Homo sapiens: one gene and its partner. The protein of the gene in region 2 purifies or fractionates together with the protein of the main gene of each other region. This does not show direct contact. Each region holds a gene or a part of one and is shown on either strand. Other genes may lie near its edges. The genes, in order: MME and POTEH.

The links.
Region 1: the proteins of POTEH (region 2) and MME purify together in Homo sapiens (co-immunoprecipitation; one large-scale study listed by IntAct). This does not show direct contact.

The regions. Positions count from the first base shown.
Region 1 is NC_000003.12:155,086,599-155,090,418, reverse strand, and holds part of MME (neprilysin), read right to left. Parts: intron 586-3,820; coding exon of another isoform or gene 539-585; exon of another isoform or gene 1-538. UniProt on the Homo sapiens protein: Thermolysin-like specificity, but is almost confined on acting on polypeptides of up to 30 amino acids. Biologically important in the destruction of opioid peptides such as Met- and Leu-enkephalins by cleavage of a Gly-Phe bond.
Region 2 is NC_000022.11:15,688,228-15,692,147, reverse strand, and holds the start of POTEH (POTE ankyrin domain family member H), read right to left. Parts: upstream 2,123-3,920; 5' UTR 2,071-2,122; coding exon 1,439-2,070; intron 1-1,438.

The DNA of each region.
Region 1 (3,820 bases), on a different chromosome or scaffold from region 2:
AAAAAATATAGCATATATAGGGTTCAGTCCAGTGTCAGACATCCACTGAGGTCTTGGGGGATCCTCAGAGGATAAGAAGGGGACCGCTGTGCATTATCTCACCATGATGAAAATATCTTTCAAGTAACAGAATGCCACCTCTCCTTGTATTAATAATTAAGTAATCATCAAAAGTTTTCTTGGTATGTGCAGAATTAAAATAAAAGGAGTGGACAGTTCTGAGAGGTGTTTCATCCAGGTCTTGATGTTCCACAAGCCTGTCTGTCAAGGCTGCCATCGACAAATATGCAGTGTACAACCTGCATGACTATACAGGTGGAGGTGGTCCCACTTTCTCTTGTAAACTGTATTGATCACGTCTTAGCTTGGCTTCTCTGGCCTCTGGATAATTTAGGACCACACTTCTAACATATGCTTCTGCAGACCCCTCAATTCTCTGTTGTCTTTTTCTTTTTTTTGGAGATAGAGTCTTGCGCTGTCTTCCAGGCTGGAGTGCAGTCGTGCAATCTTGGCTCGCTTCAACCTCTGCCTCCTGGGTTCAAGCAATTCTCCTCCCTCTGGGATTATAGGCGCGTGCTACCATGCCTGGATTTTTGTATTTTTAGCAGAGATGGGGTTTCACCATGTAGGCCAGGCTGGTCTTCAACTCCCGACCTCAAGTGATCCACCCGCCTTGGCCTCCCAAAGTGCTGGGATTACAGGCATGTTGCCATATAAGGCAACATATTCAGAGGCTCTGGGAATTGGGTGTGAATATCTTTGAGAGGCCATTATCCTGCCTACCGTTAAGAGGGAAGCATTGATAACATCTTGAGACCGTTTAAACCAGTGGTACCCAGTCATAAGTGACCGTGCTGCCTGCAGGGGACATTTAGTAATGGCTAGAGACATTTTTTGGTTGTCACAACTAGGAGAGGACTGCTACTGGACATCTAGTTGGTAGAGGCCAGGGATGCTACTAAATATCCTATAATACACAGAATAGCATCCACAACGAAGAATTATCTAGCACAAAAATATCAATAGTGATTGAGTTGAGAAACCCTGATTTAAAGCACAAGATTCCTTGAAATCTAAGTTAGGGAGGTTACAATGCAATGGAAATCAGTTTCAGGATTCAGACTTACACGGAAAAGTCTGCAAAATCACATACAAGTTTTATAACTCTAAGTTTTTGATGACCTTATAGGGTAAATAAGCGATGAATAATACTTTGAAGCATTTTGATCCCTGCCTTAAGTTGTTATTTCTTAAGTGGTATTTGTTTTACTTTAGGTCTGGTGTAATCTTTCATACTGATGCATTACACATATAGGCAAGTTAATTTAAAGTATACATAAACATCATTTTATGTACATCATAAATATTTAAATCCTAGATGCTCAGATTTTAAATATGTAACACCAAACAGATTTGAAACAGCCTTCTGCAATATTTTACTTCTGTCTTGGTATGGCTTGACTTCTGTATTCCTTGACTTCAAAGAATCAAAGATAAGTACATTTGCTATGACATTCCCTTCCACTGGAAGAAAGGTTCAAGTTGGGGCCATCTTTCATATAATGTAAGCACCCTGAGTGTCAATACTTGCTTTTCCCATTCTCAAGAATTTCTGAGCTCAGGTTTGAACCCACCCACTCTCTTAAAGTGACCTATAGACTTGCTGGTAAGATATTTTATATTTTTTCAACATCTCTCTTTTCATATTTCTTTCTTTTCTTTTTTTTTTTTTTTTGAGATGGAGTTTCAGTCTTGTTGCCCAGGCTGTAGTGCAATGGCGCAATCTCAGCTCACTGCAACCTCCACCTCCTGGGTTCAAGCAATTCTCCTGCCTCAGCCTCCTGAGTAGCTGGAATTACAGGCATGCGCCACCACACCCGGCTAATTTTGTATTTTTAGTAGAGATGGGTTTTCTCCATGTTGGTCAGGCTGGTCTTGAACTCTCGACCTCAGGTGATCTGCCCGCCTCAGCCTCCCAAAGTGCTGGGATTACAGGCGTGAGCCACCGTGCCCAGCCTTCTCTTTTCACATTTCTTTTTCTTTCCATCTACTCTACTCTGGCCACTCTTCTTTAATACTTGCTTTTGTCCAAGATTTCCTCTAGGGTTTTCCTAATTTGCAACAACTTCTAAAAGAAATAGTTGTATTTTTCTGTGGCAGAAAAGATTTCCTAACCAGCAGAAGACTGTGTGTGTGTGTGTGTGTGCGCGCACGAGTGTGTGTGTTTATGAGTATGCAGAGTGTATCCATGAGGGTGTGTGTCATCTTATTTATTCTCCTAGGAAGAATAGTAACTACCAATGTGAACAAGTATTCTAATGGCTTGTGAACCAACAGAGCAGAATGAAGAAAAATATACAGCTATACAGCAACCTTGTTTACCACTGAAGTTATTTCTATTGTATACATTTCTCTGCCAAGATACATCCTGCAAGGTGTTTTACATTTGGTTTGATTTCTAAGCTACAATTAAAGGATACAGGTTAAATACATTTTAGTGAGTTGAGACTTGCCAAACACTATTTAAAAATCCTATCTCTAAACATTAAGTCACATTTAAGATTCCAGATTCTGAATGTCACATTGCTCCTTGGGAGGAAAAACCTGCCTAGATCTCTGAGGCAAAATCACTTGTCGTTTATAGAAATACACCTACCTAGTCAAAAAATCCAGTTTCTTCGAAAATAAAATTCAAGGAAAAGAAGAGAAAAAGGAAAAATAGTGAGAGAAGAGAGAATCTATAGATTAAGATACCAAAGAGACATGTCAAGTGTATTAAAGACAGAGGAATTAACCCTTAGTAGTCAATATGTAAGTGGAAGTTTCCCGAAACAGGACAGCCTGAGCATATAATAGGGTAGCTGGTAGAGAGAGGAAGCATAGGAGGATCTGGGGAGGAAGTAAACGTTAACTTTGACAACTTGGGCACATGCTGACTTTTGCACATGACCACGGAGATCCCCCAGCCAAGGTACCTGTGCAGCCATTTCCCTGGGGAATAAAGAAACTTCGTTTTTGGGAAAAACTTACTATGTCGAGCAGCAAATGGCTAACATCTAAATCAAGTCTCCCTCACGCTCCCCACATCACATCTCAGGGTGTCTAGTCATTGCTCTTGTGACCCAGAGCAAAAAAATCCATCAAAAAACGATACAAAAAAAAAAAAAAACCAAAGGGCACAGATTCAGGATATTAGACTATAACCTAGAATTGCCAGATATTTTCCCGTCATTTTTTTGCAAAGTTCAGTGAATAACAAAAATCCAAGTAAAGAATATCCAAGACTGGGTGCAGTGGCTCATGCCTGTAATCCCAGCACTTTGGGAAGACAAGTAGGAGGACTGCTTGATCTCAGGAGTTCAAGACCAAGCTTGGGCAACATAGTGAGACCCTGTCTCTACAAAAAAAAAAAACAAAAAAAAACAAAAAAAACAAAAAACCCACAACCTAGCCAGGAATGGTGGCAGGTGCCTATAGTCCCAGCTACTCAGGAGGCTCAGGCAGGAGGATGCCTTGAGCCCAGGAGATCAAGGCTGCAGTAAGCTGTGATCACAATACTGCACTCCAGCCTGGGTGACAGAGCAAGATCCTGCCTCAAATAAATAAATAAATAAAATTAAAAATATCCAGCAGAAAATGGTTAAAATTATTTGGAACAGTTTATTTATTTCTTATAAGACACATAGATGTTAGAAAGGAGGTTTAGAATCTCTTGTTAAAGGACACAAATATTGTGTTCATATCCCAGGTGCTGCCCTCAGCTACCACCTTCCTTTTTCTTGAAGAAAGAAGAAATACTCCCATTTTCACCACACTCCAA
Region 2 (3,920 bases):
CTGTAATCCCAGCTACTCAGTAGGCTGAAGCAGAGAATTGCTTGAACCTATGAGGCAGAGGTTGCAGTGAGCTGAGATCGCACCACTGCACTCCAGCCTGGGCAACAGAGTGAGACTCCATCAAAAAAAAAAAGAAATTTATATATATATATATATATATATGTATCTGCATATGTAAATAGGCACTTGTGTTTTCTTCTGGTATGTTTCTCTTTTTGTATATTTAAAATTTTTAATCTATACTCTGATTTTTGTGATATAAACATCTAGCTAGTTTTCTCCAAAAATGAATTATGAACAATCCATCTTTTTTAAATAATACAAAACATCACCATTATCAAGCGCTAAATTCCTACATATATTTCGGTATTTCTAAATTTCCTGTTCTGTTTTATTCATTGATGTCTTTTCAGCTGTTAGTAAACAATTTGTGGAAATAAATAACATGCACATTTTGACATCTGGAAAAGCAAGCCTTTGTCCATTCTGCTACAAAAAAATTAACTTAGCACAATAATAAAAGACAGCATGTGTAATTTAAAAACTCTAAAACTGCTATTTTTATTTGGCTTAAGTAAAAGTGATAAATAGAAAAAGCTCACTTTTTTTTTTTTTTTTTTTTGAGACGGAGTCTTGCTCTGTCTCCCAGGCTCTACTACAGTGGCGTGATCTCGGCTCACTGCAAGCTCCGCCTCCCAGGTTCACGCCATTCTCCTGCCTCAGCCTCCTGAGTAGCTGGGACTACAGGTGCCTGCCACCGCGTCCAGCTAATTTTTTTTATATTTTTTAGTAGAGACGGGGTTTCACCGTGTTAGCAAGGATGGTCTCGATCTCCTGACCCCATGATCTGCCCTCCTCAGCCTCCCAAAGTGCTGGGATTACAGGTGTGAGCCACCACGCCCAGCCAAAAAGCTCACATCTTCAGAAAATTCAATCTTCCTATTCAAGCACAAGAACCATCTTCCCATTTCAGTTTCCTTCTAAGATTACTCAGTAAAGAACATATTTACATAGTGTACATTGATATAAAATCCATACTGGATTTTATTTGAAGAATATTTAGCCCTGAAGTTGATGTGTTATGGGGCTTCATTCTTAGTTCTCAATATACACTTTTTTAATGTATAGAACATTGTTTTAAAATCTGTACATTAAAAATAATCTGCTGCATCGACAACGTTGCGAGTTAAATCACTTCAAAACAGTCTATTCGTGTTCTAGGAAGGAAATTATGATTTGATTGGAAATCAGCTAAAGTTTTGTTTTTGTGTTGCTGCTCATAAAGGGGCCTGTGCCCTGAACTCTCTGAGGTTTCCACATCCAGGGTGGTGTGAGGCCTGTGGAGGCAAGAAAACCAGGCTCCCCTCCTCCCCGGCCAGGAGGGTATGTCCCCATCATCCTCCCACATCCCACCTCCTCCCAGCCCAGGCCTGGTTACCTCTTTTGCTTGTCCTTCTTGTTCATGTCAGTGTCCTTGAGCATGACGATGAGATCCTTTCTGGGGACTTTACCCCACCAGGCAGCTCTGTGGAGCTTGTCCAGATCTTCTCGACGGACGTGGTACCTCGGCTCCATGAAAGCGCTGTCGTCGTAGTCTCCCCAAGGGCCCACTTTGTTCTTGCCGCTCCCCCTGCAGCAGGGGAAGCAGTGGCAGCACCACTTGCCCATCTTGCTCCTGAGTGTCTTCATAGCAGAGTCGTCGTGGTCTCCAGAAGTGCCCACGTTGCTCTTGCCGCTCCCCCTGCAGCAGGGGAAGCAGTGGCAGCACCACTTGCCCATCTTGCTCCTGAGTGTCTTCATAGCAGAATCGTCGTGGTCTCCAGAAGTGCCCACGTTGCTCTTGCCGCTCCCCCTGCACCAGGGGAAGCAGTGGCAGCACCACTTGCCCATCTTGCTCCTGAGTGTCTTCATAGCAGAATCGTCGTGGTCTCCAGAAGTGCCCACGTTGCTCTTGCCGCTCCCCCTGCACCAGGCGAAGCAGTGGCGGCACCACTTGCCCATCTTGCTTCTGAGACCAAATGGCTTCTTCACAGAGGAGGCAGCCGGCATTGAACCAGCCTCAGCCACCATCTGCTTTTAACAGCCAGGGAAGGCCGGTAGTAGCCAGCAGATCGCGTCTACCAACCAGTTTCACCAACTGGCAGATAACTCCGGGTTTCTAATCTGTTTGAAGAGAAAAGTCCCGACCAAAACCTGCCAACCCCAGCAGGGGAGCCCAGCCCACCCCACCCAGGGAAAACCCACACCCACCTGGGGAAAGCCCACACCCACGCTGGGCGACCCCACGCCCACCCCAGGAAGGGCCAACCCCACCCCCCAAGAAAACACCCGGCCCACCCAAGGGAATGCCAAACCCAGAAGAGAAAAGGTCAAGTCCAGCAAAGTAACGTGACAGAAAAAACGTCAGTCCAAGGAAGAAATGTCAATCCAAGCGACAAATGCCAAGCCAAGCAAAGAACGCAAAGCCAAGCCAAGCGCTACAGGCCAGCCAAGCCGTTACGCACGTGCAGTGTGCGCATGCCGACTGTTACAGACCAGCCAAGCCGTTAACGCGCGTGCAGCATGCGCGTGCAAGCCATTACAGGCCAGCCAAGCCATTACGCACGTGCGGCATGCGCGTGCAAGCAGTTACAGGCCAGCCAAACCGTTATACGCGTCCGGCGTGCGCGCACGGCATGCACGTGCAAGCCCTTACAAGCCAGCCAAGCCACTGCCACGCGTGTGGCGTGCGCGCGCGGCATGCACGTGCAAGCCGTTACAAGCCAGCCAAGCCACTGCCGCGCGTGCGGCGTGCGCGTGCGGCGTGCGCGTGCGGCGTGCGCGTGCGGCGTGCGCGTGCGGCGTGCGCGTGCGGCGTGCGCGTGCGGCGTGCGCGTGCGGCGTGCGCATCTCTGGTGGTGTCAGTACACGTGGCACAGACAGTTGCGGATGCGTGCAACCTGCATAAGTCTTGGAACCACAAATGTCACTGACAGCCTGGTGTTCCCGGCAAACTTCCTGGGAGTCAGCCGAGCTTTCAGGCCATTGAGAAGCCTCTGGTGAAAGAAAAAGCTTCTTGAAGCAGGACTGGGGCTAAGTGGCTGGAACTTGAGGATGCTGACAGCCTCCTCTGAAGAAAGCCCCCAGGACACTCCTGGTGGTGCTGTTGTGCATGGCCGCTGCTGCAGCTCAGAGCACCGGCTGGCGGAGCTGGCTGCAAATGGCCTCAAAATCACGGAGCATGTTCTCACTCACAGGTGGGAATGGAACGAGAACACACGGACACAGGAAGGGGAACATCACACACCGGGGACTGTTGTGTGGGGGGAGGGGGGAGGGATAGCATTAGGAGATATACCTAATGCTAAATGACGAGTTAATGGGTGCAGCACACCAACATGGCACATGTATACATATGTAACAAACCTGCACGTTATGCACATGTACCCTAAAACTTAAAGTATAATAATAATAAAATTTGAAAAAAAAAATCATGGAGCACAAGACGCCCACCGAGCCCAGCACCTGCCTGAGGTGCCTTCGATACCTGCTCCTCCTTGCTCCACACCCAGAACACGAGGCCATCAGCGAGGGGGCATTTGGGGCCACAGGATCGCAGCCAGCTCCTGCCCCGGTGCCCCCTGCCTGTCCAAGCCAGGGCCAACATCTGTGGGGCTTCTGGCCTGGGGGGCTCTGCTCCACTGGCATGCAATAGGGTCAAGGTGCAGGCCGCTGTGTCCAGGCCAGCAAGAGGGGGCTTGGAGGAGCACCTACCACTGATGGGGAGATGCAGAAAGGCAACCCCATGTGCAGATCCTGAGAAAAAGACACTGAGCCTCCCTGGTGCTGGCCTCTGAGCTGGACCAGGGCAGTGGCACTTCAACGCTCCTGCCAGGACTCTCCTGCTGCAAAGCTTTATGCAGCCAGGCTCCAGTCTGCTT